Linked DNA regions of Homo sapiens. The protein of the gene in region 4 purifies or fractionates together with the protein of the main gene of each other region. This does not show direct contact. Each region holds a gene or a part of one and is shown on either strand. Other genes may lie near its edges.

The links.
Region 1: the proteins of FBP1 (region 4) and NDUFS1 purify together in Homo sapiens (affinity purification with mass spectrometry, with the first as the bait; one large-scale study listed by BioGRID). This does not show direct contact.
Region 2: the proteins of FBP1 (region 4) and SAFB purify together in Homo sapiens (affinity purification with mass spectrometry, with the first as the bait; one large-scale study listed by BioGRID). This does not show direct contact.
Region 3: the proteins of FBP1 (region 4) and MYH10 purify together in Homo sapiens (affinity purification with mass spectrometry, with the first as the bait; one large-scale study listed by BioGRID). This does not show direct contact.
Region 5: the proteins of FBP1 (region 4) and MYO1C purify together in Homo sapiens (affinity purification with mass spectrometry, with the first as the bait; one large-scale study listed by BioGRID). This does not show direct contact.
Region 6: the proteins of FBP1 (region 4) and UQCRC2 purify together in Homo sapiens (affinity purification with mass spectrometry, with the first as the bait; one large-scale study listed by BioGRID). This does not show direct contact.
Region 7: the proteins of FBP1 (region 4) and MYO6 purify together in Homo sapiens (affinity purification with mass spectrometry, with the first as the bait; one large-scale study listed by BioGRID). This does not show direct contact.

The regions. Positions count from the first base shown.
Region 1 is NC_000002.12:206,120,813-206,125,490, forward strand, and holds part of NDUFS1 (NADH-ubiquinone oxidoreductase 75 kDa subunit, mitochondrial isoform 1 precursor), read right to left. Parts: intron 3,465-4,678; coding exon 3,373-3,464; 3' UTR 1-3,372.
Region 2 is NC_000019.10:5,650,104-5,654,781, reverse strand, and holds part of SAFB (scaffold attachment factor B1), read right to left. Parts: intron 3,805-4,678; coding exon 3,710-3,804; intron 1,668-3,709; coding exon 1,518-1,667; intron 1,445-1,517; coding exon 1,362-1,444; intron 722-1,361; coding exon 582-721; intron 415-581; coding exon 326-414; intron 1-325. UniProt on the Homo sapiens protein: Binds to scaffold/matrix attachment region (S/MAR) DNA and forms a molecular assembly point to allow the formation of a 'transcriptosomal' complex (consisting of SR proteins and RNA polymerase II) coupling transcription and RNA processing.
Region 3 is NC_000017.11:8,473,290-8,477,967, forward strand, and holds the end of MYH10 (myosin-10), read right to left. Parts: intron 3,760-4,678; coding exon 3,587-3,759; intron 2,660-3,586; coding exon 2,515-2,659; 3' UTR 935-2,514; downstream 1-934. UniProt on the Homo sapiens protein: Cellular myosin that appears to play a role in cytokinesis, cell shape, and specialized functions such as secretion and capping. Involved with LARP6 in the stabilization of type I collagen mRNAs for CO1A1 and CO1A2.
Region 4 is NC_000009.12:94,611,454-94,616,131, forward strand, and holds part of FBP1 (fructose-1,6-bisphosphatase 1), read right to left. Parts: intron 1-4,678. UniProt on the Homo sapiens protein: Catalyzes the hydrolysis of fructose 1,6-bisphosphate to fructose 6-phosphate in the presence of divalent cations, acting as a rate-limiting enzyme in gluconeogenesis. Plays a role in regulating glucose sensing and insulin secretion of pancreatic beta-cells.
Region 5 is NC_000017.11:1,466,067-1,469,411, reverse strand, and holds part of MYO1C (unconventional myosin-Ic), read left to right. Parts: intron 1-915; coding exon 916-1,009; intron 1,010-1,103; coding exon 1,104-1,159; intron 1,160-1,288; coding exon 1,289-1,424; intron 1,425-1,501; coding exon 1,502-1,572; intron 1,573-1,834; coding exon 1,835-1,932; intron 1,933-2,070; coding exon 2,071-2,170; intron 2,171-3,345.
Region 6 is NC_000016.10:21,962,770-21,967,447, forward strand, and holds part of UQCRC2 (cytochrome b-c1 complex subunit 2, mitochondrial precursor), read left to right. Parts: coding exon 1-116; intron 117-2,638; coding exon 2,639-2,736; intron 2,737-4,678. UniProt on the Homo sapiens protein: Component of the ubiquinol-cytochrome c oxidoreductase, a multisubunit transmembrane complex that is part of the mitochondrial electron transport chain which drives oxidative phosphorylation.
Region 7 is NC_000006.12:75,755,739-75,759,238, reverse strand, and holds part of MYO6 (unconventional myosin-VI), read right to left. Parts: intron 1-3,500. UniProt on the Homo sapiens protein: Myosins are actin-based motor molecules with ATPase activity. Unconventional myosins serve in intracellular movements. Myosin 6 is a reverse-direction motor protein that moves towards the minus-end of actin filaments.

The DNA.
Region 1 (4,678 bases), on a different chromosome or scaffold from region 4:
AGGCTGCAGGAATACAGTTGTCCATGCTGGACTCAACTCATTTGCTCAAGCAATCCTTGTGCCTCAGCCTCCCAAGTAGCTGGGGCTATAGCTTGTGCCATCATGCTCAGCTATTCACCTTACATTGCTGTCCAAAATGTTTTCATTTGAGGCAACCTGGGATAGTAAAAGTACTTCTAATTAAACACTCCTGCCATTAGTATCTAGCTGTGTAGCCATAAATAAGTTATTTGATATTTCTTGAGTCTCAATTAATACCTACTATTAGCAGAGATTTTGTGAAGAATAGTCTTAATGTATTTAAAGCTTTAATGGCACTTATTTAGAAGGTCCTCAGGAAATGGTATTATTATTCCAAGGTCTTTCTAGATTGCCTTATTCACCTAAAGAGACTTGATCTTGAGCCTTTGTAGATTTTCTCATTGGTGATTCCTTCACTGCTTAGAATGTCATGATTCCACCAGACAGGTTACTCTCATCTACGTGTATTTTTCTTACATCTTTTTCAGTCTATTTTTCTCTAGCAATTATCTTCAATGTTTATGCTTACAATAACCTTAGTATTTGGCATTACGACACTAATATGTGCCCATGAGACAGACGGAGCACTACTTATCCCAGAGGAGGTATTATTTATTTATTTATTTATTTTTTGAGAGGGAGGCTTGTTTCTTCACCCAGGCTGCAGTGCAATGGTGTGATCTCGGCTTACCGCGACCTCCGCCTTGACTCTCAGTTCAAGCGATTTTCCTGCTTCAGCCTCCCCAGTAGCTGGGATTACAGCCATGTGCCACCATGCCTGGCTAATTTTTGTATTTTTAGTAGAGACAGGGTTTCACCACGTTGGCCAGGCTGGTCTCAAACTCCTGACCTCAATGATCTGCCCGCCTCAGCCTGCCAAAGTGCTGGGATTACAGGTGTGAGCCACCGCGCCCGGTCCAGACAAGGTATTTTTTAGAGATTATGATTGTTCACCACAAGCTGCCTAGCAGGTAGCCCAAGGATCCTGGATCAACTTAGCTATATAGCATCTTTTCTATCTGAATGCAGTATTCTCTTACCCACAACCATATGAAGTCTACACATATTCATTAACAGTATTATATAAAATACAAAATTGGGACTATGTCCCCTCAAGATGAGCACAGTGCTAAGAGGTAAGAGATGGGAAGTTTGTATTAAGTTCAAACACTTTTGGCAAGAATTTATACAATTTCAGGTAACTGGGCATTTTAGGCAAAGCACACAACTTCATGATGTATCACTGAGGAGGATAAGATAAACAGTTCTAAAAGCTGGTACAGGTGACAAATTTTGTGCAATTTTAAGTTTTACATTTTTTTGTACAAATAGGATCTTGCTATGCAGTCCAGGCTGGTCTTGAACTCCTGGCCTCAACTGATCTTCCTGCCTTGAACCCCCAAAATGCTGGGCTTACAGGTGTGAGCCACTGCACCTGCTGTTTTTAAAGATATTGTAACATACTATTATTCTAAAACCTTATCCTTTGTTGTATCAGAAAAACGACATCCTAGACTGGGCGCGGTGGCTCACGCCTGTAATCCCAGCACTTTGGGAGGCCAAGGCAGGTAGATCACCTGAGGTTAGGAGTTCAAGACCAGCCTGGCCAAATTGGTGAAACCCTGTCTCTACTAAAAATACAAAAATTAGCCAGGTGTGGTGGCGTGCGCTTGTAATCCCAGCTACCGGGGAGGCTGAGGCAGGAGAATCGCTTGAATCAGGGAGGTGGTGATTGCAGTGAGCCAAGATCATGCCACTGCATTCCAGCCTTGGGTGACAGAGTAAGACTCCATCTCAAAAAAAAAAAAAAAACAAAGGGAAAAAGGGCATCCTATACTTGGGCTGAGTCTTTAGTGAAAGCAGAAAAGAATAAGGATTACAAAACAAATAAATTGTGAACATAGTTTTGTTTGTTTGTTTGAAACAAAGTCTTGCTCTGTTGCCCAGGCTGGAATGCAGTGGCGCAATCACGGCTCACTGCAGCCTCAACCTCCTGGGTCAGGTGATCCTCCCACCTCAGCCTTCCGAGTAGCTGGGACTATAGGTGTACACCACCACACCCAGCTAATTTTTGTATTTTTTGTAGAGATGGGGTTTCACCATGTTGCCCAGACTGGTCTCCAACTGCCTGGGCTCAAGCGATCCACCCACCTTGGCCCCCCAAGTGTTGGGATTACAGGTGTAAGCCACCACACCCAACCTTAGATTAAAAAAAAAAATTATCTATTTTTAATTATCTCCTAATTGTAAAATTTTTACTTCCTTTTTTATTTTTTTAAATTCTCAGTGATCCTTATTCTGATTCCTTTTGGTTTTGACAATTAAAAATTATGAAAGCTGGTTGTTTTGTCTCCTATTGCTGAAATAATTTAGTTGATTTAACACTACAGATGGTGTTAGGATAATGAATACAGAACATCAATGAGAATCTAAATTATATCTCTTGAGACCTCCCTCATTCCAAGGGAGGTCTCATAAGTATACATGCATACATGTATAACTTATAAAAAAAAAAAAGCCACATAAATCACCATGACATTATAGAAGCAGATTCAAGAGAAAATAGAAAAATGTGTTCACCATTAAACTCAATACTAATTTTTAGAAGTAACAACCTATAGAATCAACATTAATGAGACGAAATAATATGTTGCAGTTAAGAACAACAGGCTTTGGAGTAAATAAGAAGTAGGTTTGAGTTGGTGACTTTTGCTGTGTGGCCTTGGGCAAGCTATTTAATATACCTAGGCTTCAGTCTTCATCAGTAAAATGAGATAATACTACTATCTCACAGGGTTGTAGCAAGAACAAAAGAAGATAATGCATGTAAAACCAGAGTGCTTAGCACATATAATAAAGCTAAATTATCATTAGCCATTGTTACTATGATTATTATTAATTATAATTATCCTAGATACATATCTGAGCATGATTATGTATTTTTCCTATTTACCCAGCTTGACAAGGTGCTTAAATCTTTTCTTTAGCACTAGAAAAAAGTAGGTTTTAATTGAACCTCTTTTCATTTCATCCATTTTACAGACAAATTATTTATGAAGATAAGCCAACAACTCATAATTTAAGGATCTCTTTATGTTCGTCACAAAGGTTATCAATGCTTTTAAGAGCATCTGCATAGTTTTGTTATTTAACCTTTACACACAATACATGTTTTTCAAACTGCAAAGTTGATAACTAATATCATTTTCAAATAGGCATAGTATAACCTTAAATATTACATGATTCAAATTATTATTATTTTTTTTTACAAAGAAATAAACCTGTAAAGGATCACTGCACTACAGTTGTCCATTAATTATCTGCGGCAAAACTGGGATCCTAGTAGAAGCTTCAGCATATGGATGGTTCCTCTACTGCCTGGGCACCCTCTGTGACAGCTTTGACACATTTGGCCATTGTCTGTGAGGCTCTGCTAATTGAATCTGAAAGATATTAAGAAAATGTCATTTTGATAATACAACTTTTTAAAAAGCACATACTAAAACTTTAATGGTGCACATATTCAGGAGGAAAAAAGATTATAAGGCCCTATGCAAGTATATATAATTATATGTAACCAACAGATTCCAACGATAAACCCCTTACTGGCCACATGCTTTCAATAACTATCCCTGGAAACAATCAAATAACTATAGAGCAGCTAGACAGTGCACCAGTATGCAGCCATTAAAAAATTATAGAAAAGTATTAAAAACATAGGAAAGGCCAGGCGCGGTGGCTCACACCTGTAATCCCAGCACTTTGGGAGGCCGAGGCAGGTGGATCACGAGGTCAGGAGATTGAGACCATCCTGGCTAACACAGTGAAACCCCATCTCTACTAAAAATACAAAAAATTAGCCAGGTGTTGTGGCATATGCCTGTAGTCCCAGCTACTCGGGAGTCTGAGGCAGGAGAATCGTGTGAACCTAGGAGGCGGAGCTTGCAGTGAGCCGAGATCACACCACTGCAATCTAGCCTGGGCGACAGAGCAAGACTCTTGTCTCAAAAAAATAAATAAATAAATAAATATAGGAAAAATGTGTACAATACTATTATTGAAAAAGGTTACAAAACAGCATATGTACTAAAATACATTGAATTGTCCACTTCATGAGTAAATTTTAGGGTACATGAATTATATTTCAATAAAGCTATCAACCCCCAAGTGAATAATCTCACTTTTTTTTTTTTAAAGAGACCAGATCTGACTATGTTGCCCAGGCTGGTCTGAAACTCCTGGATTCAAGCCATCTGCCCCCCTCAGCCTCCCAAAATGCTGGAATTACAGGCATGAGCCACTGCACCAGGCCTAATCTCACCTTCTGTTTCACTAAAAAATATATAGGCCAGGGGTGGTGGCTCACATCTGTAGTCCCAGCACTTTGGGAGGCTGAGGTGGGTGGACTGCTTGAGTCCAGGAGTTTGAGATCTGCCTGGGTAACATGGCGAAACCCCATCTCTACAAAAAATACAAAAATTAGCTGGATGTGGTGGTATGCGCCTATAGTCCTAGCTACCGAGGAGGCTGAGGTGGGAGGATCACTTCAGCTCAGGAGGCAGAGGTTGCAGCAAGCCAAGATTGTGCCACTGCACTTCAGCCTGGGTGACAGAGTAAAATCTCATCTCAAAAATTATACACACACACACACACACAC
Region 2 (4,678 bases), on a different chromosome or scaffold from region 4:
CAGCCTGGCCAACATGGTGAAACCTTGTTTCTACTAAAAAGATAATGGTGTGCGCCTGTAATCCCAGCTACTCGGGAGGCTGAGGCAGGAGAATCGCTTGAGCCTGGGAGGCGGAGGTTGGAGTGAGCCAAGATCGCACCACTGCACTCTAGTCTGGGCAACAGAGTGAGAACCTGTCTCAAAAAAAATAGTTTGAGATTTCTACATTTTCGAAACGGCCGACAAAAGCTTTTTTCAAATGAAGCTTAGTAATTCCCTAAGACGCACACAGAAATACAAACTGAAAAGAAGAGCAAAATACCCTAGTTAGAAAATTAATACTCACTCTCTCTTTGGACCCGGACGTTTTTACACTAATCACAGGCACCCCTTTGGATTTATCCATTACTACAGTCCGTTCGGTCCCTCGACTTCCTACAGAAAAGACGGGGAAAGTGTAAGTGGAAAACCAAGAATACCCAGATGAGAAAAACCCTCTGCAACATGAATCCAGTTTCCGTTGCCAGCTAATCACAGCAAACTAACAAACTCCACTAGGCACAGAAACAAGACAGAATCTCCTGGGCTCATGAGCTGCCCACCTGACTTTGTGGCTCGAGATCGCTCTGAGGGGCCAGGTTTCTGATCATCTTGGTCCTTACTCTTTTCTCCACTTCCGTCGTCACCCTTCTTAGCATCATCTTTTCTGTCACATTTATCATCCCTCTTAAGGTTTGTAGATCTATAAAAAACAGACATGTTGGCTGGGCGTGGTGGCTCATGCCTGTATTCCCAGCACTTTGGGGGGATGAGGCGGGCGGATCACATGAGACCGGGAGTTCGAGACCAGCCTGGCCAACATGGTGAAACCCCATCTCTACTAAAACCACAAATGGGCATGGCTATAATCCAAGCAAATCGGGAGGCTGAGGCATGAGAATTGGTTGAGCCAGGGAGGTGGAGGTTCAATGAAAAGAGATCTTGCCACTGCACACCAGCCTGGGCAACAGAGTGAGATTCTGTTTAAAACACCCTGCCCCGGCCAGGCATGGTGGCTCACGCCTGTAATCCGAGCACTTTGGGAGGCCGAGGCAGGCGGATCACAAGGTCAGGAGTTCAAGACCAGCCTGGCCAATATGGTGAAACCCCATCTCTACTGAAAATACAAAAATTAGCCGGGTGTGGTGGTGCACACCTTAGTCCCAGATACTCAGGAGGCTGAGGCAGGAGAATTGCTTGAACCCAGGAGGTGGAGTTGAGGTGAGCCGAGATCACACCACTGCACTCCAGTCTGGGCGACAGAGCGCGACTCCATCTCAAAAACAAAACAACAACAACAAAAAACACCCTGCCCCTTTAATTTAGCCAGGAAGGAGGGGTACCTGTCACTGTTGCTCGACTTCTCCTTTTTCCCGTCACTGTCTCTTTTGTCAGAGGTTTTCTTTCCCACAGGTTCATTTTTGGCCTGAAAAAGAGAATCAAGTATTACCCCCATTTCCTAATGTGGGCTATATCCTGGGAAGAAAACGGCCACTCACTTTCTCCACGGAGATCATCTTTCCGTGGAGCTCCGTCTTGTGCAGGTGGTTAATGCATTTTGTGGCCTCTTCTGCTGTGGACATCGTGACAAAACCGTAACAGCGAGCTCCAGGACTCCGGGCATTTGTCACAACCTTGGCGCCCACCACCTCAAAGGAAAGCAGGCAAATATGACTCAGACATGAAGCCCACTGAGCGGGGCATGGGGATATGAACACCCCACAGGGAAGTCTGCTCATCAGGGGTCCGACAAGTGTTAGACTGGGGAGGACAATGCTACTAATGCTTCTGTTTCGCTGTTGTTCCTCCAAGGACCTCTGGCCAGTTCTAATCGCTCATCTAGTTCCTCAAGGGGGCCAGGAGGGCAATGTAGGGGAACAGACGAAAGGGAAATCAAACAGGGTTCTGCCAGTGTTCCTTTAATATGGTCTAAAACTTGTGAAGAAATGATTCCAAATATACAGTCATGCTACGTAGGTGGTAAATTATGAAGTGATGTAATGTGGGCAAAAAAAGAAAAAAGAAAAAAAAAAGACTTCGGCACAGACTGATGCAAGGAAAGGTCTGTGAGCCGTGCTCTGGAACTCAGATCTGCCCTATCATTGACTGTAACAAAACGCAGTGATGTGTTTCAGTTACTGTAGACACATCCTTTCCAGTCTACCTGGTTTTCTCGACTCCAGCAGGATGCAGTTAGGGTCGCCCTTTGACGGCAGAAGACACCATGGCTCAGGAAAAGCCCTGCAGCAGCCAGTGGCCGAGGCTGGTAATCATGCTCATCATGCCACATGGAATCCTAGTCCCAGAGGACATTCTCAGAGAGGCCCGGTCCTCTAATTAACCCACATCAGGCCTGCTGCGCTCAAGACACTACAGTCTCCAGGGCAACACTTCCCCACTGAGCACACCCACCCGCTGGGGGACGCCATGGAGTCAGGAAAGGGGGTCTAGTAGGGGAGACTTGGCGCAGGTGTTGCCAGCCACACACCTTGTATCACTGAGGCTCAAGAAGCCCTTAGTTATGTCCGTAATAATGACATAATTAGTTTTATCCTTTTTTTTTTTCTTTTTTTAAGATGGAGTCTTGCTCTGTCCCAGGCTGGAGTGCAGTGGCACGGTCTCGGGTCACTGCAACCTCCACCTCCTGGGTTCAAGTTGTTATCCTGCCTTAGCGTCCCAAGTACCTGGGATTACAGGCATGCGCCACCACGCCCGGCTAATTTCTGTACTTTTAGCAGAGACAGGCTTCACCATACTGGCCAAGCTGGTCTCAAACTCCTGACCTCGTGATCCACCCACCTCGGCCTCCCAAAGTGCTGGAATTACAGGCGTGAGCCACCACACCCAGCCTGTTTTATCCTCTTTTAAGTTCTTCGAAGTCAGTATCAGGGAAAACACTTGGTTTTCTATATTGCAATGTGTTGAACCCTCACTGTGTAACACAAAGGATTGGACTCCTTCCTTTGGTAGTCCCCGAAACCGACTCTGAGAGAGACGAGGAGCCCTGAATGCAGGAGGCTGTTTGGGAGGCAAGTCTGGGAAACACCAGGGAGGAAGGGAGTGAGAAAGCACAGGGAGGAGGGCCAGGCGGCTGCGCTGGGCACTGCAGGTAGGGGGCTGGTGCCACCAGCCCCACCTTCACGGGCTCAGGAAAGGCAGGTGCTGCAGACAAGAGGCCACTAGAACTGCCCCCAGTGGTGAACTGAGGCAGCAACTTTGAGAGCCCCCAGCTGCTGAGGTGAGGTTCAGTCAATGGACCCAAGACACCCGTGGTGAGGACCCCTATCATCAGACTCCAGGGTCCCTGTTCTGAGTTCTGAGTTCCAGCATCACGAACACTGTTCTAAGAACACTGCTGTCTCCCAGACATGCTGACCAGCACCCCACCAGCCAACCCTGGCAGCCCAGCCTGAGTGCGACGTCCTGAGGACACAGAAATGGATCCACGAGCCATCACAGGGAAGGGGGCAAGCTCGCAGAGAAGGGAGGGAAATACAGTGGTGATGTGGGCTCTGGAAGCTTCCACACCACTCTCACCTCTACCTGTGGACGGGCAGACCCTCCCCAGCCATTAGCAAGTGTAAGCTCCTTGGTATCTCTCAAAGAACTCACTGAGGGGAGAGGACCTCCATGTAAAGGCCACACAACGCTGGTTTCAAAGTATCTTCTCCAGAAAAGCTCTGGCACTTACCTTCCCATATTTGCTGAAAAGATTCTTCAAATCTGTAGCTCTGGTTGTAGAAGAGAGTCCACTAACCCAGAAATTTCTACCACAACTGCTGCGACCTATTTCAAAAGAAAATTCTAGTAAAAACCCAAATACCCACAAGATCTTGAGTCTTAGAGACAACCTTTCCAAAAGAGACATGGTTCCCATTTTTCCTGAGGCAGTGGCAGCACTAAAAGCCAAATGGGGCTGTGGGCCTGACCACTATCCTCACCAAGAGCCTCCAGTGCAACACCAGGCCCAGCAGCACTACCACAGGGCCCGTCACAATACTGAGTGGGGCTATTGGGACAATGTGAGGTTTCCTAAGAAAGTTAGCAATTGCGGGCCGGGTGTGGTGGCTCACGCCTGTAATCCCAGCACTTTGGGAGGCTGAGGTGGGCGAATCACGAGGTCAAGAGTTCGAGACCAGCCTGGCCAACATGGTGAAACCCCATGTCTACTAAAAATACAAAAAATCAGCTGGGTGTGGTGGCGGGCGCTTATAATCCCAGCTACTCAGGAGGCTGAGGCAGGAGAATCTCTAGAACCCGGGAGTCAGAGGTTGCAGTGAGCTGAGATCGCGCCACTGCACTCCAGCCTGGGCAACAGAACAAGACTCTGTCTCAAAAAAAGTTAGCGATCGCTTAATTACAGGAGGAAGTGCAGTGTGCAACGGCCATGTAGCAGAACAGTCAACCTTGGTGTCAACAATGCACTGTTTCTCTTTCCACGTATAGCTCTGTATCTATCCCATGTTTTTACTCCTTTAGAACACTGATTAAGAAGGAATTTGGTAGGGTAAAATTATTTCTCAGTTAATGCATTTAATGAAGGGTTACAGGATGAATGTGCTCCCAACACAAGGATCTGCACCAAATCAGCCTGTTAACTCTTAGGACCTGGTATGCTTCCTACAACCCAGAACCTGTAGCGGTAACAGCAGAGAAGGAG
Region 3 (4,678 bases), on a different chromosome or scaffold from region 4:
GATTTTCATGCCTCAGCCCCCCAAGTAGCTGGGACTACAGGTGTGCACCACCACACCTGGCTAATTTTTGTATTTTTAGTAGAGACGGTGTTTCACCATGTTGGCCAGGCTGGATTCGAACTTCTGACCTCAAATGATCCACCTGCTTTGGCCTCCCAAAGTGCCGGGATTACAGGCGTGAGCACCATGCCCAGCCCAGAGTTCTTACTTTTTGAGAAAAACAAGCCTCTGAATTCTGTACACTCTTGGATAAGATACTGGATGTGGGGGTGGGAGCCCTGCTGAAGCACCATACCTGTGACTCACCTTTCCTCTCCTATGGTAGTGGCACAGGAGGAAGAGGGCACTTCGGCCCATTTCACACGTTTCTACTGCTGCCAAGAAGCCTAGTCATAGACCCCTTACCCCCAGAACCAGTCTAACCGGAGAATATTATGGAACAAGAAATCGGCATTCTCTGTTTGATTCTGTGCTGCCCTAGTATTTCTCTCATCCTAGTTGGCCCGCACTAGAGAGGCTGCCCTTGGCCTCATCACTGAATCCTCCAAAAGCATCTTCAATGCGTGTCTGCCTGAAAATGCAGCCTGAAATGTCCTGGACCCCTGAAAATGTCCTAACCCAGCAGTGAGCTTCATTGGCTGGTGACCAGAGCCCTCCTAAATCACTCCCTTGACAGGTGGGCCAGCTCCTGCCTTTGGGTGGTCTTTCCCTTCCTAGTGCGTGTGCATCCTGTGAGGCACTGGCAGGAACAAGAGTTGGAGCCAGGACTGGCCTGAGAATTATTCTGTCGTCTGACCTGGGAGACAGCGCCCTCAGCAAAAAGGGCCTGGCGCCATCATTTGAAGTTGGTGTGTAGCACCCACCCTCCAGTCAGATCACAGATGGGAAATCGAGAACAGAAGGTGAGAAAACAGATTCCACGTTCACATGATTATTCTTGTTTATTGAGGTCTCTTTATTCTCCACGGGTGCTTTTTTCTTCAAGTAAACAGAGCAGGCGCAAATATCTATAATGAATAAATTTATTGTCTTACAAAAATCATTGTCTAGAAATATGGGAATACAAGAAAAGATATTTGCGGTCAGGTGTCTGGTGGTCAACAGCCAGTACAGTTCATAAAGGGGGAAAATCCAAGATTCCAAACCCACAGGACAAATTCTTCCTAATAGATGTTAAAGCTTTTAACCCAAAAGGTTTGTGTTTTCAAGCACATTGCAGAGGATCAAGGATTTAGAATTAACACTGATTCATTGTCACTGAATGTCTGTAATACCACTTTGACTAGAGAGGTACATGATATGAAGCACAGTCAAAACTGAATACATTAAATTGTTATAGAGGCGAATGATATATTCAACATTGTCTTAGTACTGTAGTGTCTAAGGCACTTTCCGTAATGTCAGTTTGCTTAACTACCAACCAAAAACAGGATGCTAAGTGTTCACTGTAACACTGTCCAAAGGGAAGGGAGAAGGAAAAATGAAGGAGTCACACCCACTGGCATGTCAACATTCAGGAAGATGGCATCTGTTCTGGAGGCTCCATAAACCTCATTGACAAACTTGGAACAAGCCTCGGACACAAAACCAATATTCCCATTTTGGGCTCAAAGCAGCGGCTGAATTTGCAAGGTCAGCATGAGGGCCCGGCTGGCGATGGGGAGGGGCCTTCCACCAGCTCGGCTTAGGGGTCCACGGCTGCTTGCTCCTGACGTGAGGAGGGCGCCGGCAGAGCCAGGCGGTTCGGGAGACCATCTGGAAGTCTACATGATCCATGGCTGCCACCTGGGGCCTCAGCTGCAGTGTGGCCACTATCCCTTCTATGCACAGACCAGCCCTCGCCAAGGCCAGTTCACATGAGTAGATGCGGGACACCATCGACTCGAGGGGCAGGGCCCCCCTTGGGGGATGGACATGGTAACCCCAAATGGGTGTTGCTTCCGATCCAGCCCACCCCTCCTACTCTTTCCAAAGCCCCTTTCACAGTTTGCTCACTGAAATAGCATTGATCATTATTTGAAGGAAATGAGAGAGACAAGTGCAGTTTAGAGTCCACAGTGGTCTAGGAGACTTGATGTGGCTGAGGAGTCGGGGGCCACGTGAACACAGAACTAGGTTACCTGTCTGTATGACAGAGAGCATGCAGAGCGACTGAGTGACGACCACGGCGCTGCCCCAATAACCCAGCGACCCGCAACCAAGGGCCTGGAGTTTGTTTTAAAAAGGGTCTTACCATGTTTTATAAAATGGTCTCTTGATGACTATATGGAAAATAGATGCAATGATGAAACAATCTGTTTAATATATGTGTCCTGTGTGTGTCTATATATAAAAAGGGGAGCAATTGTACCTAAGTCTGAAGCAGGATACAGTATGCATAGGCTGGAGAGCCTTAAGACACAGTTGATCTTTCAGGAAGGAATCCCGTAGCTTGCCAATTTCCGAAATCTGCAGGAGGCCCCGGGTGCATTCCTAACTGTCCCACTGTATTGCCTCCTCTGGCTTCCTGCAACTTTACTCTGACTGGGGTGGCTGCGTCTCGTTGACATCACTGGTCTTACTTTCTGTGTCATCGTCGGAGAGCTCCAGGGAAGCTCCTTCAAGGTGCAGCTGGCGCCGGCCAGATCGGCTGGAAGAGAAGCTGATGGGGCCACCCCGCCTGGAGAACACAGGAAGCAGATGTGTGTGGGTAAACAGACAGGAGCACATGGCTGTCAATATGTTCAACCACTCAATGCCACGGAACCTTCCCCTTGCACCCCCTCCTCGGACACACGACCTTGTGGGGGTGGCGGTACGATGGGGAAGGACTGCGTGCTTTTCTGCCTCTCCCACAACCCTGCCTGCAGAGTACGCGAAGCAGGGTCCTTGGAGAACTGGGGAGGACTTGATTCAGCCTAGGACTGTGTGATGGAAATGGTAAGGAAGACGGATTAAGGCCAAGCTCTACCTGCTAACCAGGGAATCAGCCAGATAGCAAAGTGGGCCACATAGGGACTCTGTTGCATATTCTTTGTTTCGGCGTTTTTATAACCATTTAAAAATGTAGAAACCATGCTTAGTTTGATGGCTGTATAAAAGCAGGGTATGCACCAAATCTGCCCATTGGCCAGATGTGCTGAAACCTCCGCCGACCTGGTCTTCTGGGGCAGAGACTTCAGCTGTAGCTCTCTCACGCTCTGCCCTCTCACTGGTACAGAGCAGATCCATTGTGGTGAGGAGGACGGTGCTGAGGAGGGCTGATGGCACCAGGTCCCAGGAGGAGCTCCTGCCCTGCTTTTTAAGAGAGGCTGGGAGCTCACTTCACTAATGGATATCTGGACAGGGATGGATGCCTGACCCAGCTCCAGCCTGGTGTGGTGGATTAGTGTGGTCCTCTAGTGACTGGCAATGAATAGGGCCGCCTCCTCTTTTATTCTCCCCAAGGACGACTATAAAGGTCAGAAATCTTAAATGAAGTGGTTCGGGAGAAAGAATGGGTCACTGGGTATGGATCTAAGTAAACTTCCTCTGACCAGCTGCACCCCGAGCCTAAGCTAACCCACAAAGCAGCTGCCTGTCAGCTCGGGGCCGCATGCCTGCTCACCTCAGCCGGTTCTTCAGGGTGCTGACCTCGCGGCTCAGGCCCTCGTTGGCCTCGGTGGCATCATCCAGTTCCCGCTGGAGTTTACGCCGAGATGCGTTGGCACGCGTCGCTTCTTCTTCTGCTTCCTCCAGCTGGCGTTTAAGCTGCTTCATCCGAGCGTTGGCCTTCTCCATCTTGGGGAGGGTACATGAACCAAAACAAACCAAACTGGTGAATCCAGTGTCGGCCTCTCTGTACCCCGAGCGTGGCAGTGTGGGGCTCTGCCTGTTACCCTTGTGAGCACGCGTGTACACGGATGTACACGCGTGCCTGGGGGCTGGTCGGAGGCTCTGTAACCGGCCTGCCGCTCTCAGCAAAGCTAGCATCTACAAAGCACACTAGGCCAAAAGAAATGAAAAAGTACTCAAGACTCTGTTTTTACCAGTGAGTTTTCTGCAGAAAAATGACAGCGTTTACTGTCTTCACACACGTGACCTAGGGGACTGAAAGGGAATTGCTATTCTTGCAAAACGTGGAAGAACCAGCAATGTGGGACAATCCCCAGCCCAGAAGATGGTACAATGCATCTTTACACCTCCTTTCAAGGATGGGCATCTCAGATACTAGACTTGGATTCAAGCAGAAAGCCACCCTGGGATGACATGCCACAGAACTAAGAGCCTCCCTTTTGGACCCTTCATTCCTGAGCCACACAGGCACTGGTCAGTGCTTCGTGGGTCCAGCGCACACCACCCTCAACTGTGCTCCGTGTTGCTAGGCCCCAAGGGTGGGGGTGGGAAGGGAAGGCCAGGTTGCCTGACTGAATGAATGAAGTTGGGGAGGGTTCGGGCCAAAGGCAGTGAAATCCTCAGATCCATCCACCTTTCTGGCCAGTGTCTGCAGTGTGAAGTCTCACCAGGCAGAGGGCAGGGAGCGGGAGGGAGGGTATAGCTGCCCACGCTGCAATCAGGGCAGGCCTGACCCACAGTTCAAAGTCCTGCGGAACATTCCCTGTGTACTTAGAAAAGGGGGCCTGGATGCAGACGCTGAAGCTCACTCGGGTGCAGCGTGCAGTACCTTTGTCTTCCCTTCACTTTCTATTCAGTATCTCCT
Region 4 (4,678 bases):
TTAAAAATGCACATTCACAGCCGGGGTCATGACTCATCCCTATAATCCCAGCACTTTGGGAGGCTAAGGTAGGAGGATCATTTGAGGCAAGGAGTTTGAGACCAGTTTGTGCAACACTGGGAGACCCCATCTCTACGAAAAAAAATTTTTTTTTAATTAGCCAGGCATGGTGGCATGTGCCTGTGGCTACTAAGGAGGCTGAGGCTGGAGGATCACTTGAACCTGGGAGGTCGAGGCTGCAGTGAGCCATTATCATTCCACTGCACATGCCTGGGTGACAGAATGAGAACCTGCCTCTTTAAGAAAAAGAAAAGAAATGCATATTCTGGGGCTACAGCCTAGACACACTGTCAGACTTTCCATGGCGGGGCCTGAGAATCTGCATTGCACTATGCAATGTGAAGGGGTGACCTTCACACTCAAGTGTAAGAACTTCACATTCAAGCATAACAACTACTCATATAAATGAGAAAACCACAAACCAGAAAACCACAAACCCATTTCTTTCCACCGCTTCCCTGCCCCTCCTAGTTTTCACCTGGGGAGGTGGTTAGTTAGCTGGTTGCACTGGGTTATTTGATTCAGTTTGGTTTGTATTCACCAGACAGTACAGTGGAGCTAAACACAGACTAAACTTACAGGATCAAAACTTTGAGGGAATAATTCCAAGTTTTGCCAATGCACAACCTTGAAAAATGAAATTAATGGCCTTTGTCAACATGCGCTGCCTGTCAGAGGCTCATTTTAACAATCACCAGCTTCCCTTGAAGCCAGGTACACAGTGGGTGGACTCAGGACTCTAACTCTCCTCTCCTCCCACTGCAGGCTTCAAGTAACCAGTTCTCTGCCAATAAAGGCCCCTTTTCCCAGAGATTCACCTCGCCCAGAACCATCCGTGCCGGCCTGTGGCAAAGGTGCAAAAGTAAACAGCCCTTCCCTGACATACGGTCACCAAATGCTCTACATTTATACACTTCCTCGCACGGAATAAAAAATAATAGTAATACTTGTCTATGACCCACATACTCAAAACGAAGAGAAAATTATCCCACTGAGCCATGGATTTGGAGGAATTCTTTTCTAGCCCAGCCCCCAATTTTTTTTTTTTTTTTTTTTTTTTTGGAGACAGAGTCTTGCTCTATCGCCAGGCTGGAGTGCAGTGGCACAATCTTGGCTCACTACAACCTCCACCTCTTGGGTTCAAGTGATTCTCCTGCCTCAGCCTCCCAAGTAGCTGGGATTACAGGCGCCCACCACCACGCCTGGCTAATTTTTTTTTTTATTTTTAGTAGAGATGGGGTTTCACCATGTTGGCCAAGATGGTCTCGAACTCTGGACCTCAGGTGATCCGCCTGCCTCAGCCTCCCAAAGAGCTGGGATCAGCCCCCTTTCTAATTCCTTCCTCCAAATGCTCAGCAATGCATGCCTTTCCTCCAAGGGAAACATATTCCATTCTCCTGCAGATGCCCAGGGACCAATGAGCACGGAGCACTTGGCAAAATCAGAAACCTCTGGACCCTTCCTTTCTCTGCCTATCTGAGGCCACCACCTGCTGTAGGCACTGGCTCCATGTCATCACATATTATTCCATGTCATCACATAAGGAGAAGTAGGCACAGAAACGGAGGGCCTGGGGGAGGAGAGACTGTCACGTCCACAGTGGTCTTTCCTCGGAGCAGAAACCAAACCCTACTTTTCTGAATCTCTGCTTTTGTGGTGGGAGCTGTAAAGGACATTGCAAGTTAGAGTATGTCCAGTAGAGGGTGATCAGGCTAGAGAGAAGTCTCAGATCCCTCTCCTGTGAAAGATGTTCAGCTTAAAGGGAAAAAAAGTGGGTGTGGTGGGCATTATTGGGAGGGCAGAAACACTGTTTCCAAACATGTCAAAGAATCTTATTTTCTTATGCTCTAAACAGCCAAGTGAGCAAAATGAAACAGATTTCAACTCAATATTTGGACAAACCATGATGGTTACCCAGCATTGCAGGAGAATTCGCCCTGTCAGGATGTCTCCAGCCAGACACTGGTGGGGCCAGGCACCGTGGCTCATGCCCGTAATCCCAACACTTTGGGAGGTCGAGGCGGGAGGATCGCCTCAGCCCAGGAGTTCAACACCAGCCTGGGAAACATAGCGAGACCCCCTTGTCTCTACAGACAATACAAAAATTAGCCAGGTGTGGTGGTGCACCTGTAGTCCCAGCCACTCAGGAGGCTGAGGTAGGAGGATGGCTTAAACCCGGGAGGGTGAGGCTGCAGTGAGCCATGATGGCGCCACTGCTCTCAGCCTGGGCGACAGAGTGAGACCTTGTCTCAAAAAAAAGAAAAAAAAGAAGAAAAAAAAAAGGCCGGACGCAGTGGCTCACGCCTGTAATCCTAGCACTTTGGGAGGCCGAGGCGGGCGGATCACGAGGTCAGGAGATTGCCACCATCCTGGCTAACACACGGTGAAACCCCGTCTCTACTAAAAATACAAAAAAAATTAGCCAAGCGTGGTGGCGGGCGCCTGTAGTCCCAGCTACTCGGGAGGCTGAGGCAGGAGAATGGCGTGAACCCGGGAGGCAGGGCTTGCAGTGAGCCGAGATCGTGCTACTGCACTCCAGCCTGGGCGACACAGGAGACTCCATCTCAAAAAAAGAAAAAAAGAAAGAAAAAGGAAGAAGGAAGAAAAGGAAGAAGAAGAGGAGGGAGAAGGAGGAGGGGAAGAAGGCAGAGGAGGAAGGGGGGGACGAGGAGGAGCAGGGGGAGGAGGAGGGAGGGAGAAGGGGGAGGGACAGGGAGAAGAAAGAGAAAGAATAGTAGTAGTCGTGGCCGGGCGCGGTGGCTCACGCCTGTAATTCCAGCACTTTGGGAGGCCGAGGTGGGCGGATCACGAGGTCAGGAGATCGAGACCATCCTGGCTAAAACAATGAAACCCCGTCTCTACTAAAAATACAAAAAATTAGCCAAGCGTGGTGGTGGGCGCCTGTAGTCCCAGCTACTCAGGAGGCTGAGGCAGGAAAATCGCTTGAACCAGGGAGGCAGAGGTCGCAGGGAGCTGAGATGGCGCCACTGCACTCCAGCCTGGGCGACAGAGAGAGACTCTGTCTCAAAAAAGAAATAGTAGTAGTCGGTAGGCCCTGGAAAGATGCTGTGGCAGGAGCTGCATGCAACATGACCACACATCCTTCCACGTGCCTTTCCAGGAATCGTGTAGCAAGGCCTGGTCACCATGGCAGGGTCACAGTTACTGATGCTGCCCCACTGGGCGTGGGCACCATGGTGCGATTCTAGCCAACAATCATCTCTGCAGAAAGCAGGAAAAATCCCCTTGGAAGCATTATAGATGTCTATGTTTATGCCTCATGAGCCCTCAACTGGTTTCAGCTGTTTCAAGCAATCAATAAGGCTTCAAAAAACTGAAATGACTTAGAGGTCTGTGTCATACTCATCATCACTTTCTTTTTATTAATTAATTAATTTATTTATTTATTTTTTGAGACAGAGTCTTGCTCTGTCACCCAGGCTGGAGTGCAGTGGTGCGATCTCGGCTCACTGCAAGCTCCGCCTCCCAGGTTCACACCATTCTCCTGCCTCAGCCTCCCAGGTAGCTGGGACTACAGGGGCCTGCCACCACACCCGGCTGATTTTTTGTATTTTTGGTGGAGATGGGGTTTCACCGTGTTAGCCAGGATGGTCGCAATCTCCTGACCTCGTGATCCGCCCGCCTGGGCCTCCCAAAGTGCTGGGATTACCGGGGTGAGCCACCGCACCAGGCCCCACTTTCTGTCTTTTAAAAAAGTCACTTCTGGTTCATTGAGAAGACAGCCGAGCCTTATTGTTGAGAATTCTGTCATTCATAATTCAAGCTGCTGTTGCAAGCTGGCTTGATTTTTTTTTTTTAGTTGATAGCCAATGTCTCTCAATTTCCCAGGTTTTTTTTCCTTAAAAAGTATTATTTGGGGGGACTGAGATGGAGAATGGGCTTAGTAAACATCAACACTGCTTTAGTTGTGGTTAACACATTAGCCAGATGTCTTCCTCTGCAAGGAAGAATTTTGCTACAAACCTCTCCTGCTATTCTGTGGATTTGATATTTTGCAAGGAAAATTGCATTCTTCCATGTCTACAACAGAAATGGTATGTTCCTTGGCATGACTTGGAAAATGGATAAATTGTTGCCTTTTTGCCTTTCTAGTATGAGAATTTGAATCTTCTATTCCTCAAACTGATTGTGATGTGGATCTGCCTCTTACCCAAGATAAAAAGCAAAATACGTTCCAATGACCAAAGATAACTGTGCCATGGGGGCTCTACTTTTCACATATTTGAAAGGAAATTATGTATAATACTAGACAATAAGTCACTTTTAGAGATAAAGTGCAAATTTGGGTCTCAGTTCTTTTTTTTTTTTTTTGAGACGGAGTCTAGCTCTGTCACCCGGACTGGAGTCCAGTAGCGCGATCTTGGCTCACTGCAACCTCCACCTCCCAGGTTCATGCCATTCTCCTGCCTCAGCCTCCTGAGTACCTGGGACTACAGGCGCCCGCCACCATGCCCAGTTAATTTTTTGTAATTTTTAGTAGAGACGGGGTTTCACCGTGTTAGCCAGGATGGTCTCAATCTCCTGACCTCATGATCCGCCCACCTCGGCCTCCCAAAGTGCTGGGATTACAGGCGTGAGCCATCTCGCTAGGCCAAGG
Region 5 (3,345 bases), on a different chromosome or scaffold from region 4:
CCGTATTTACCCCGATCTACCGTATTTACCCTGGTCTACTCTATTTACCCCAGTCTACCGTATTTACCCCGCCTACCGTATTTATCTCGGTCTACTGTATTTACCCCACCTACCGTATTTACCCCAGTCTACTCTATTTACCGCAATCTACTGTATTTACCCCGTCTATAGTATTGACCCCGGTCTACCGTATTTTGCCCTGCCTACCATATTTACCCCGCCTACCGTATTTACCCCGGTCTACTCTGTTTACCCCGGTCTGCTCTATTTACCCCGGTCTGCTCTATTTACCCTAGTCTACCGTATTTACCCCGGTCTACCGGTGACCTCAGTTGGATGCCAGGCCCTGCTGGGCCTCGTGTAGGAAGTGGACACTGGAGTACAGCTGGGGTGGCCAGTAGGGTTCATATCGTGGGCCAACTGCCCTTGATTGGTAGAGACTGCTCAGAACCCTGTGTTGAAAAGTCTGCGTCTTCACTCGGGTCGATTGGTGATATCTGCCCTGATTACAGGCATTGGTTGATGTGCCGTGTTTTTGCCAACTCAGTATTGGATGATGCTAAAGGGCCCACCCAGTAACCTTGAGTATTAGTGATCTGCTGCTTACAAGACCCCAAGCTGGAGCTGAGTCTCAGGGCCACCAGGGCCTGATGGGGTGGGGAAGCATTACCAAGGCCAGTTTCAAAACCCCGCAGTGCCTTCATGACCCCGCTGGGGAGTGCTTGGTGGCGGCAGAGGGTCAGGAAGTGGAGGGTTGATGGGCGTGTGGGGGGCAGGGCTCAGCCTCCTGGTGCTGAGCCAGAGAGGGACCAGCAAGCGGGTGAGGGAGGCTGTCTCAGGTCCTAAGGCTGGCTCTGCCCCCCCAAGATGGTGCTCCCCACCATGACACTCTCCTCACCCCCCTTGTCTCCTCAGCTGCAGCAGAAGGCCGTGGCTAGTGAGATCTTCAAGGGCAAGAAGGATAATTACCCTCAGAGTGTACCCAGGCTCTTCATCAGCACTCGGCTTGGTGAGCCCCTGACTTTCCAGCACTCAGACCTTTCGTCACCATCCTGGTCCCCCATTGCCTCCACTGACTTCCCTCCCCGCCATCTGAGTTGCAGGTACAGATGAGATCAGCCCCCGAGTGCTGCAGGCCTTGGGCTCTGAGCCCATTCAGGTAAGAGCCTGCCTGCAGCCCTGAGTCCAGCAGCACGGTGCTACTGCCTGAGAGCTGAAGGCAGGTCAGGGCAGGGGCGGAGCCTTGGGAGCCTCTCCCCAGCCCCTTCAGCCTGGCCTCTGTCCCCAGTATGCGGTGCCTGTTGTGAAATACGACCGCAAGGGCTACAAGCCTCGCTCCCGGCAGCTGCTGCTCACGCCCAACGCCGTCGTCATCGTGGAGGACGCCAAAGTCAAGCAGAGGATTGATTACGCCAACCTGACCGGTCAGCCAGGGTCCAGGGCTGCAGGGGGAGGGCCCTGCTCTGACCCTCGACCTCTGACCTTTGCCCTCTCCCCTCAGGAATCTCTGTCAGCAGCCTGAGCGACAGTCTTTTTGTGCTTCATGTACAGCGTGCGGACAATAAGCAAAAGGTGCCTTTTCATGGATGGGGAGGAGTGGTGGGGGATGGGGGAGGTAGATGGGGAGGTGGGGTGGATGGGGGAATAGGGGGTGTGGGGGTGGATGGGGAGGTGGGAGGGTGGATGGGGGTAGATTGGGGGGTCAGGAGGTGGATGGGGAGGTGGGAGGGTGGATGGGGGTGGATTTGGGGGTCAGGAGGTGGATGGGGAGGTGGGGCGGGGGTTCCTCAAGTTCTGGGCAGGGCCTGACCCCTCCTCCTGCCTGGCCCCCCAGGGAGATGTGGTGCTGCAGAGTGACCACGTGATTGAGACGCTGACCAAGACAGCCCTCAGTGCCAACCGCGTGAACAGCATCAACATCAACCAGGGCAGGTGAGGCGCGGGCGGCCCCCGGGGACAGGGCGGGGGTGGCGAGGGGGCTGTGTGGGCACCCAGGGACAGGGTGGGGGTCCACCTTAGGGTTGGGGGTCTGCCTCCATGGAAAAACCCTCACCCACCCCGTTCCCCCAGCATCACGTTTGCAGGGGGCCCCGGCAGGGATGGCACCATTGACTTCACACCCGGCTCGGAGCTGCTCATCACCAAGGCCAAGAACGGGCACCTGGCTGTGGTGAGTGGGGCCTGCTTTCCCGCTTATGGCCTGGCTGTGATAGCCAAGCCTTCCTTGGCTGTGCTTGGCAGAGCCCAGGCACCTCACCATGGGCCTTCATCCAGAGGCCATCATACCACCTCTTCCATCCCTTGGCCCACCCATGAGGGCCAGAGAGAGCCCCTCAGTGCAGAAAGTTGTAAAGGTGGCAGCACGGTGGCTCATGCCTATAATCCCAGCACTTTGGGAGGCTGAGGCGGGTGGATCACCAGAGGCCAGGAGTTTGAAACCAGCCTGGCCAACATGGCAAAACCCATCTACTAAAAAAATGCAAAAGGCTGGGTGCAGTGGCTCACACCTTTAATCCCAGCACTTTGGGAGGCCGAGGTGTGTGGATCACCCGAGATCAGGAGTTCGAGACCAGCCTGGCCAACATCGTGAAACCCCATCTCTACTAATAACACAAAAATTAGCCGGGCGTGGTGGTGCACGCCTGTAATACCAGCTACTAGTGGGGGCTGAGGCGGGAGAATTGCTTGAACCCAGGAGGTGGAGATTGCAGTGAGCTGATATCATGCCACTGCACTCCAGGCCTGGGGAACAGAGTGAGATGTCATCTCAAAAAAAAAAAAAAAGGCCAGGCACAGTGGCTCACGCCTGTAATCCCAGCACTTTGGGAGGCGAAGGCAAGTGGATCACCTGAGGTTGGGAGTTCGAAACCAGCCTGACCAACTGGAGAAACCCCATCTCTACTAAAATACAAAATTAGCCGAGTGTGGTGGCGCATGCCTGTAATCCCAGCTACTTGGGAGGCTGAGGCAGGAGAATCGCTTAAACCCGGGAGGTGGAGGTTGCGGTGAGCCGAGATTGCGCCATTACACTCTACCCTGGGCAACAAGAGCAAAATTCCATCTCAGAATTTGTATACAAAAAAGTTAGCCTGGTGTGGTGGCGTATGCCTGTAGTCCCAGTTGCTCAGAAGCCTGAGATGAGAGGATTGCTTGAGCCCAGGAGGTTGAGGCTGCAATGAGACCCAAGATCTCACCACTGCACTCCAGCCTGGGTGACAAAATGAGACCCTGTCTCAAAAAAAAAAAAAAAAAAAAAAAGGCAGCACGGCAATGCAGGGAAGATACATAGGCTGATTGGGGGTGCCAGGAGGGAGGACAGGCTCACAGGCTCACGCTGGCCAGGGC
Region 6 (4,678 bases), on a different chromosome or scaffold from region 4:
AATGGAGTTCCTGCTCAATGTCACCACAGCACCAGAATTTCGTCGTTGGGAAGTAGCTGACCTTCAGCCTCAGCTAAAGATTGACAAAGCTGTGGCCTTTCAGAATCCGCAGACTCGTAAGTACATTTCCAGATCACATTTGATTCTAAGATACTGGGTTTTTTAGAAGATCAATTTATAGAAGAAAAAAAATTGCTGTCAAAATTTTTATTTTTATTTTTATTTATTTATTGTTTTGAGACAGAGTCTCACTCTGTCACCCAGGCTGGAGTGCAGTGGCACGATCTTGGCTCACTGCAACCTCCAGCTCCCGGGTTCAAGCAATTCTCCTGCCTCAGCCTCCTGAGCAGCTGGAATTATAGGTGTGCACCACCACACCTGGCTAATTTTTTGTATTTTTAGTAGAAACAGGGTTTTGCCATGTTGGTCAGACTGGAGTTCAGTCTTGAATTCCTGGCCTCAAGTGATCCACCCACCTCAGCCTCCCAAAGTGCTGGTGTTACAGGTGTGAGCCACCATGCCTGGCCAAATGTTTTACTCCTTGAATTTGAAAATATCTTTTTCAAAAATTTGTTATTTAGATTTATTATTCTTTTGTTTCTAAACATTTATAATCATTTTTCATGTTTGATGGTAAGTAAATTGTTTGTAAGATCCTAGAAGTTTTTCCTGTTTCCTTCCCAATGTTTTGTTTTTGTTTGTTTGTTTGTTTGTTTTTGAGACAGGGTGTTGCTTGTTGCCCAGGCTGGAGTGCAGTGGCACAATCTCACTGCAGCCTGAACCTTCTGGACTCAGGTGATCCTCCTACCTCAGCCTCCTGAGTAGCTGGGACTACAGGCACACACCACCGCACCCTGCTAATTTTTATTTTTATTTTTTTATAGAGATGAGGTCTCACTCTATTGCCCAGGCTGGTCTCGAACTCCTGGGCTGAAGTGATCCTCCCACCTCAGCTTCCCAAAGTGCTGGGATTACAGGCGTGAGCCACTGTGCCTGACCCCTAGTGATTTTTAAGAGTTGTTTTGCTTACCCCAAATCCTACACCAGTTTATTGCTGCTGCTATTATTGCTTACTATTGTATTGCTATTATTGTTTAGCCATCTCCTCTTTATTGAGTCTTTCCAAAGTAAGTAACTTAATTTTTTTAATAGGAATCTTTTTTGCATTCATATTTTATGTTTATATAATGTCTAATTATATAATCTTGACAAGTACAACTGGTAATACAAGTCTGTAAGCAAGCGCCGCTGACTCTTGGGAGTCATACAACTTCTGGTGGGAGCAGAAATGTGCAGGAAGAGCAGAAATAGCTCAACTCAGTGGTTCAGCATGGGACAGGCTCCCCTCCACATGCAGGCCTGGGGACTGATGTTATTTCATGATGATGCTTGGTGTCACAGAGGAGCATTATCTTTGTTGCTCAGGATTTCTACTGAAGAAATAGATAGAATAGTACAATTTTAGAAAAGATGACCTATGTGTCCAGAGTGGCTTCTTCCCCACTGGCGGCAGTGAGGCACCAGCCTGCATCTATTCTGCCTGAACAGTTACTGTGTAGTCTCCTGGCTGGTGTCAGCCTCCAGGTTTACGTCTTGAGTCCATCTCCCACACGGCCATTACAGTGATCCTTCTGACGTGAAAGTAAGCCTTCTTATTATCTATGGGATAAAGTCCAAACAGCATATACGTATATGGCCTTGCGTGATCTTACCCCAGCCCACTTCTCTTACTTTATGCTCTACCCTCTTCTCCTTCCAGCTGCAATTCCCATTTGAATCAAATTATTGTTATACTTTATGCCTTTGTTTTGTCTGCTTCCTGTGCCTAAAATGCTGTTCCCAAATGATTTCCCCTGGGAAACACCAGCTCATTCTGTAAGATGGATCCCACATATTACTTGTATTAATTGTTTTCCAATTCCCACTGCCCTTGCCTTGTACCTCTACTGCACTTTTGACACACTGCCGACATTGCACCCATAATACTTTATTTCACAGTTTTTCCTCTTAAAATTTGAGGGCAGGCATTGTATGTTCCACATCTCTGTATTTCTAGCACCTAGCACAGTGCCTCGCATAGGCAAGTTGCCAGGTAATGAGCAACTGAAGGAAATACTGCAGGCAAAAAGGCATTGAAGCAAGAAAGCAGGGAAAGCACCAAGCACCACAGAGGAGTAAGTCCCAGTGGAAGCTCCCATTGGTCCCCTGAAAGCTACCTGACAATCTCCTTATTACCTAGAGAGGAAACCTAGGAGTAAGTAAAATTCAGATTAAATGACTTGTCCAAGGTCACATGGCAAGATGGCGGCAGAACCATAACTAGATGGGGACTTCCCAAAACCCAGGCCAGTATACCTTCCAAGTGATACCAGCTAGGTTAAAGTTAGAAAAGTGGTTTAGGTGGACTCCAGTATATAGAAGCTGCTGCCATGTAATCTTTTTTATTTTTTTCTCAGCACATTCTACTGGCAGAAACTGGCAGTTACTAGAGGTTAAATAATAATAAATTTTAAGTCCTCTTAACATATGAATGCCAGAAGATGACCAAATTTGTATAGGCTTGTTGCTTTCTAGGTTTTAAAAATGTTGTCTTTACTGAAAGTGCATTTCCCTAAATGCTTCTTCACTTATCTCACAGATGTCATTGAAAATTTGCATGCAGCAGCTTACCGGAATGCCTTGGCTAATCCCTTGTATTGTCCTGACTATAGGATTGGAAAAGTGACATCAGAGGAGGTACCAATAAAACATATTTTGAAATGTGCTTGTTTTTCACATTAAATTGAACATCTCCCATTTCAGGTTTGTTTGTTAATTTTTCCTTTTATCTTCTAACTTTAAGAAATTCAGCGTGCTAGCTTTTTCATCCACCTGCTTTTTAACTAAAATTTTATCTGAACAATTTTTGTGTCTCCTTTAAGAAATGTTTTCATGACTAAAGGGACATGATCATTACAGAAAAATTAAAAAGTAAAATCAAACAAAATGAAGGGAAAGAAAACATCTCACATACCTAAAGGCACTCAGTGTTAATACCTGGTATATTTTCTTCTAAACCGTTTTCTGTGTGTATGTATCTTTTTTGTTTGTTTGTTTTAAATACGGGGTCTTGCTGTGTTGCCTAGGCTGGTCTTGAACTCTTAAGCTCAAGCAGTCCTTCTGCCTATGCCTCTCAAAGTGCTGGGATTACAGGCATGAGCCATTGCACCCAGCCTGTGTATCTTTTTTAAACAGTATTTAAATGTTTAAGTATCATAATAGGGGCTGGGCCCAGTGGCTCATGCGTGTAATCTCAGCACTTTGGGAGGCCAAGACAGAGGGATCACTTGAGGCCAGGAGTTCAAGACCAGCCTGGGCAACATAGCAAGACCCTGTCTCTACAAAAAAAAAATATATATATATGTGTGTGTGTATACATATATATAAAATAGGTCCTTTGACTAAAACTCTTTGGTCTCTCTGAATTTGTAAATAAGACTTGAGCCCACTTCCTTAGCTCCTGTTCCATCCTCGCTCACTCATTCACGTTCTTCAGCACACCAGCCTCCGTTTGCTGGCTATAGGGGTTTGTCACATGCCACAGCCATATGTGCATCTTAGAACTTTGTTTCCAAAACATGAAACATTGAATGCTAAATCTACAAGTGTAGATATGTGCGTATAATCTTAATTTCCTATTCCTACCACCCAGACCCAAAAACAAATTTTATCAAAAGACATTAAGAGAAAAATTTGTAATTATCAACACCTTCAAAGTATATCTGACTCAAAAATTCAAGGTTTTTATTCTCGTTTTATTCTTAGTTAGCTGTTACAGAAAACTAAACTGTATCCCTTGCTCTTTTTGACTTATCAATTAACAGTTTGATGCCTTTCATTCATATGGCACTTTTATTTAGAAATTTTAACTTACATCATCCAACTTGAACAGGCAGCCGTTTTCATAAGACTGGACTCTAATGAGTTTTGAAATTTTTCAGAAATCAAATTCACCCTCATGAAGATGTGTCATTAAGTTAGCTAAAACTTAGCAAAAGTTTATCTACAAGGATGGCTATTGTAATACTAGTTTATAATTGTGAAAAATTAGAAACAAGTTAATATCCAGCATTAGGGAACTAGTTAAATAACTTATAGAATGGAACAGTATTCAACCATTCAAAAATATTAGTTGATACATAAAACTCCACAGCATGTTGTCACATAAAGCAATTTATGGATTAGGACATACCAAAAGGTCCCTTTTTTTTAATAAAAGGTATGTATGTATGCATTATAGACAAATATCAAGATGTTAACTGTGATAACTTGGTTATCTCAAAGTTAATAGTATTTTTTAAATGTGTCCCTAGGCTAAAGGAAACTCTAAAGAAATTGGCGCTAGAATACTTGGAGCAATGGCAGCATCAATAGAAAAACATCAATAGAAAAAGAGTATGACTTTCCAAGGTTACTCCATAGGTACAGACACCATTCATTTTAGGGCACGGATTATGATAAATTGATTAAAAGTTCAGTTTCATTACTTTAGCCCAGTGATTCTCAAAACGTTATCACTTTCCTTCCTGAGGAGCCTTTCTAGCCATTTTTTTCTAAACCTCTTACTTTTAATACCACAGATAGAGTTTATGTGCTGTATATTTGTACTTTTTACATAGAAGTCGTAAGTTTTTTTTTT
Region 7 (3,500 bases), on a different chromosome or scaffold from region 4:
CATTATCTAAAGAAATCTAAGTTTTTGAAAGTTTTTAAGATCTATAGAAATGACCGGATCTATAGAAACGGCCGGGCGCTGTGGCTCACTCCTGTAATCCCAGCACTTTGGGAGACTGAGGCGGGTGGCTCAGCTGAGGTCAGGAGTTCGAGACCAGCCTGGCCAACATGGTGAAACCCCGTCTCCACTAAAAATATAAAAATTAGCCGGGCATGGTGGCACATGCCTGTGATCCCAGCTACTCAGGAGGCTGAGACATTAGAATCGCTTGAACCTGGGAGGGGGAGATTGCAGTGAGCTGAGATCATGCCACTGCACTCCAGCGTGGGCAACAGGGTGAGACTACATCTCAAAAAAAAAAAAAGATCTATACAAACATGTATTTATACATTTTTACTATTTGTATAATCGTTAAAAATTAACAATTTTAACTAATATTAACTAATCACCTCCGAATGAAGCTAGTTAAAAAGCTGAAACAGGCCAGGCGCGGTGGCTCACGCCTGTAATCCCAACACTCTGGGAGGCCGAGTCGGGCAGATCACGAGGTCAGGAGAGCAAGACCATCCTGGCTAACACAGTGAAACCCCATCTCTACTAAATAAGAAAAATTAGCTGGGCGTGGTGGCGGGAGCCTGTAGTCCCAGCTACTTGGGAGGCTGAGGCAGGAGAATGGCGTGAACCCAGGAGGCGGAGCTTGCAGTGAGCTGAGATGGCAACACTGCACTCCAGCCTGGGTGACAGAGCGAGACTCCATCTCAAACAAACAAACAAACAAAAAGCTGAAACAGTCATTACAATCTAATTTAGGTGCGAAATTTAACACTGCATTGTCTTCTCCATACAATGCTATAAGCCCCAAATAAGCTTTAAAAAAAAGTCAATGAAGAGATTCTGGTAACATATTTCACTTCCCTCTACCACATACTGCCTGGTTAACCCAAGCAAATTGTCGTTAATCTTGTTGAAGCCCTCCCTAACCAAAAGATAAAGAAAAAGTTTAAGCTAGTAGTTCTCTAATTCCAGTTTGCACATAAATCAAAAGGGAAGCTTGCCAACATAGTGAAACCCCGTGTCTACTAAAAATACAAAAATTGGCTGGGCATGGTGGCACGTGCCTGTAGTCCCAGCTACTCGGGAAGCTGAGGCAGGAGAATTGCTTGAACCTGGGAGGCAGAAGGTGTGGTGAGCCAAGATCGCGCTACTGCACTCCAGCCTGGGCAACAGAACGAGACTCCATCTCAAAAAAAAAAAAAAAAAAAAAAAGCCAACTTCAAGATTCCAACCAAATCACTAATATATTGCTCTTCTTGCTTTTCGATGAAAATTCCACATTAAACATGACAAAAAAAAACACAGTAACAACAATAATAATGAATGTACACTATGTGCTAGCCAGTGTGATCTGTGTTTTACATGTATTATTATCTAATTCAATCCTCATAAGAACCACACCAGGTAGGTAATATTGTTACTTCCATTTTATAGATGAGAAAACTGAAGCCTAGAGAAATGAAATAATTTGACCAAGTTAATGAGTGACAAAACCAGGATTGCCTCAGGTCTGCCTATCCTCTTACCCAGGAGCTGGACAAGAAAGCACTGTGCTTAAACGCAACTCTGGAACCCCAGGGCTGTCAGAGAGAGGATTAAGCCTGACGACCAAGTAGTTAGGCAAGTAATACCCTCCCATCTCCTTCCAACCCCAATTCCCACCCCTCACCCAACAAGCTATCCTGACTCCCCACACCCATCACTCCCACACCAAGGTCGCCCACCTCTGTGATGTGTCACACATCCTAGCAGAACATCAGAAGTCTGTCTCTATGTGTGTGTGTGTATATATATGTGTATACATATATATACACACACACACACAGACTTCTGATGTTCTATATGTATATGTATATATGTTCTATATGTATATGTGTGTGTATACATACACACACATATATTGTGTATATGTCTATATACATATATACACACACATATGTATGTATGTCTATATATGTATATGTATATATGTCTATATACATATATACACAATATATGTGTGTATATATGTGTGTATATACATACACACACACAACACACATAAGTACTCTTGTATATACATATATACACATATATACACAATACATATTGCGTATACATATATATACACACTATATATGTGTGTATACATATATACACATATATACACACTATATATGTGTGTATACATATATACACACTATATATGTGTGTATACATATATACACACTATATATGTGTGTATACATATATACACATATATACACACTATATATGGTGTGTATATATATGTGTATATATATATATATATACACACACAACACACATAAGTACTCTTTCCACATTAGTATCTACTACCTGCTTAGTACTAGCAGAGACCCAAATTCCAGCACCACCAAATAAGCTTGAGCAAATTTAACATCTCTGCCCCTCAGTTTCCTAATCTGTAAAATGAAGGTCATAACACCAGCACCACTGAGGTGACACAGTGATTGAGCTAATGTATACAAAAATACTCACTTGGCATAATATCTGACATGGTAGTAAAAGCTCAATAAACAATAGCTGCTATTGGCCAGGCACAGTGGCTCATGCCTGTAATCTCAGCAGTTTGGGAGGCGAAGGCGGGCAGATCACCTGAAGTCAGAAGTTCGAGACCAGCCTGGCCAACATGGTGAAACCCCACCTCTACTACAAATACAAAAATTAGCCAGGCATGGTCGTGAGCACCTGTAATCCCGGCTACTCAGGAGGCTGAGGCAGGGGAATCGCTTGAACCCGAGAGGCGGAAGTTGCAGTGAGCCAAGATTGCACCACTGCACTCCAGCCTGGGTGACAGAGCGAGACTCCGTCTCAAAAAAAAAGAAAAAACAATAGCTGCTATTAAAATTATACTTTGCTAACCTCTTCTCTTACAACACCAACATATCAGTCCTAGTCCCATTTGTTTTTTGCTTGCTTGTTGTTTTTTTTTTTTGAGACAGAATCTGGCTATGTTGCCTAGGCTGGCCTCAAACACCTGGGCTCAAGCATTCCTCCTGCCTCAGCCGCCTGAGTAGCTAGGACTACAGGTAAGCATCACCGTGTCCAATTCTAGTTCCCATTTATTTTCTCTCAGTTTTCTTTGCTAAAAGTGTGATAAATGATGGAACATACTTATATTTATCAAAGCAGGTTGGTAACAGCGCCATAACCCAATAGTCTGGGAGTCTTCGACAGATAGGTCAGAAATATTCCAGAGCAAGTAAGTCATGCAGTAGCCTTTAAATTGCACAATTTTGACAACTGCCTATTTCCCAACTTTAGGGTCAGCCCTGTTGATTACATCCTAGTATGAAGAGTCTATAATTAACTTAATTCAAAACAACAATAAAATGTCAGTACAGGGGCTTGGTCTTAATTTAATCACTGTATCCCTAGAACTTAGAATAGTGCCTGGTCCGTGGTAGACACTACAGTACGTTTTA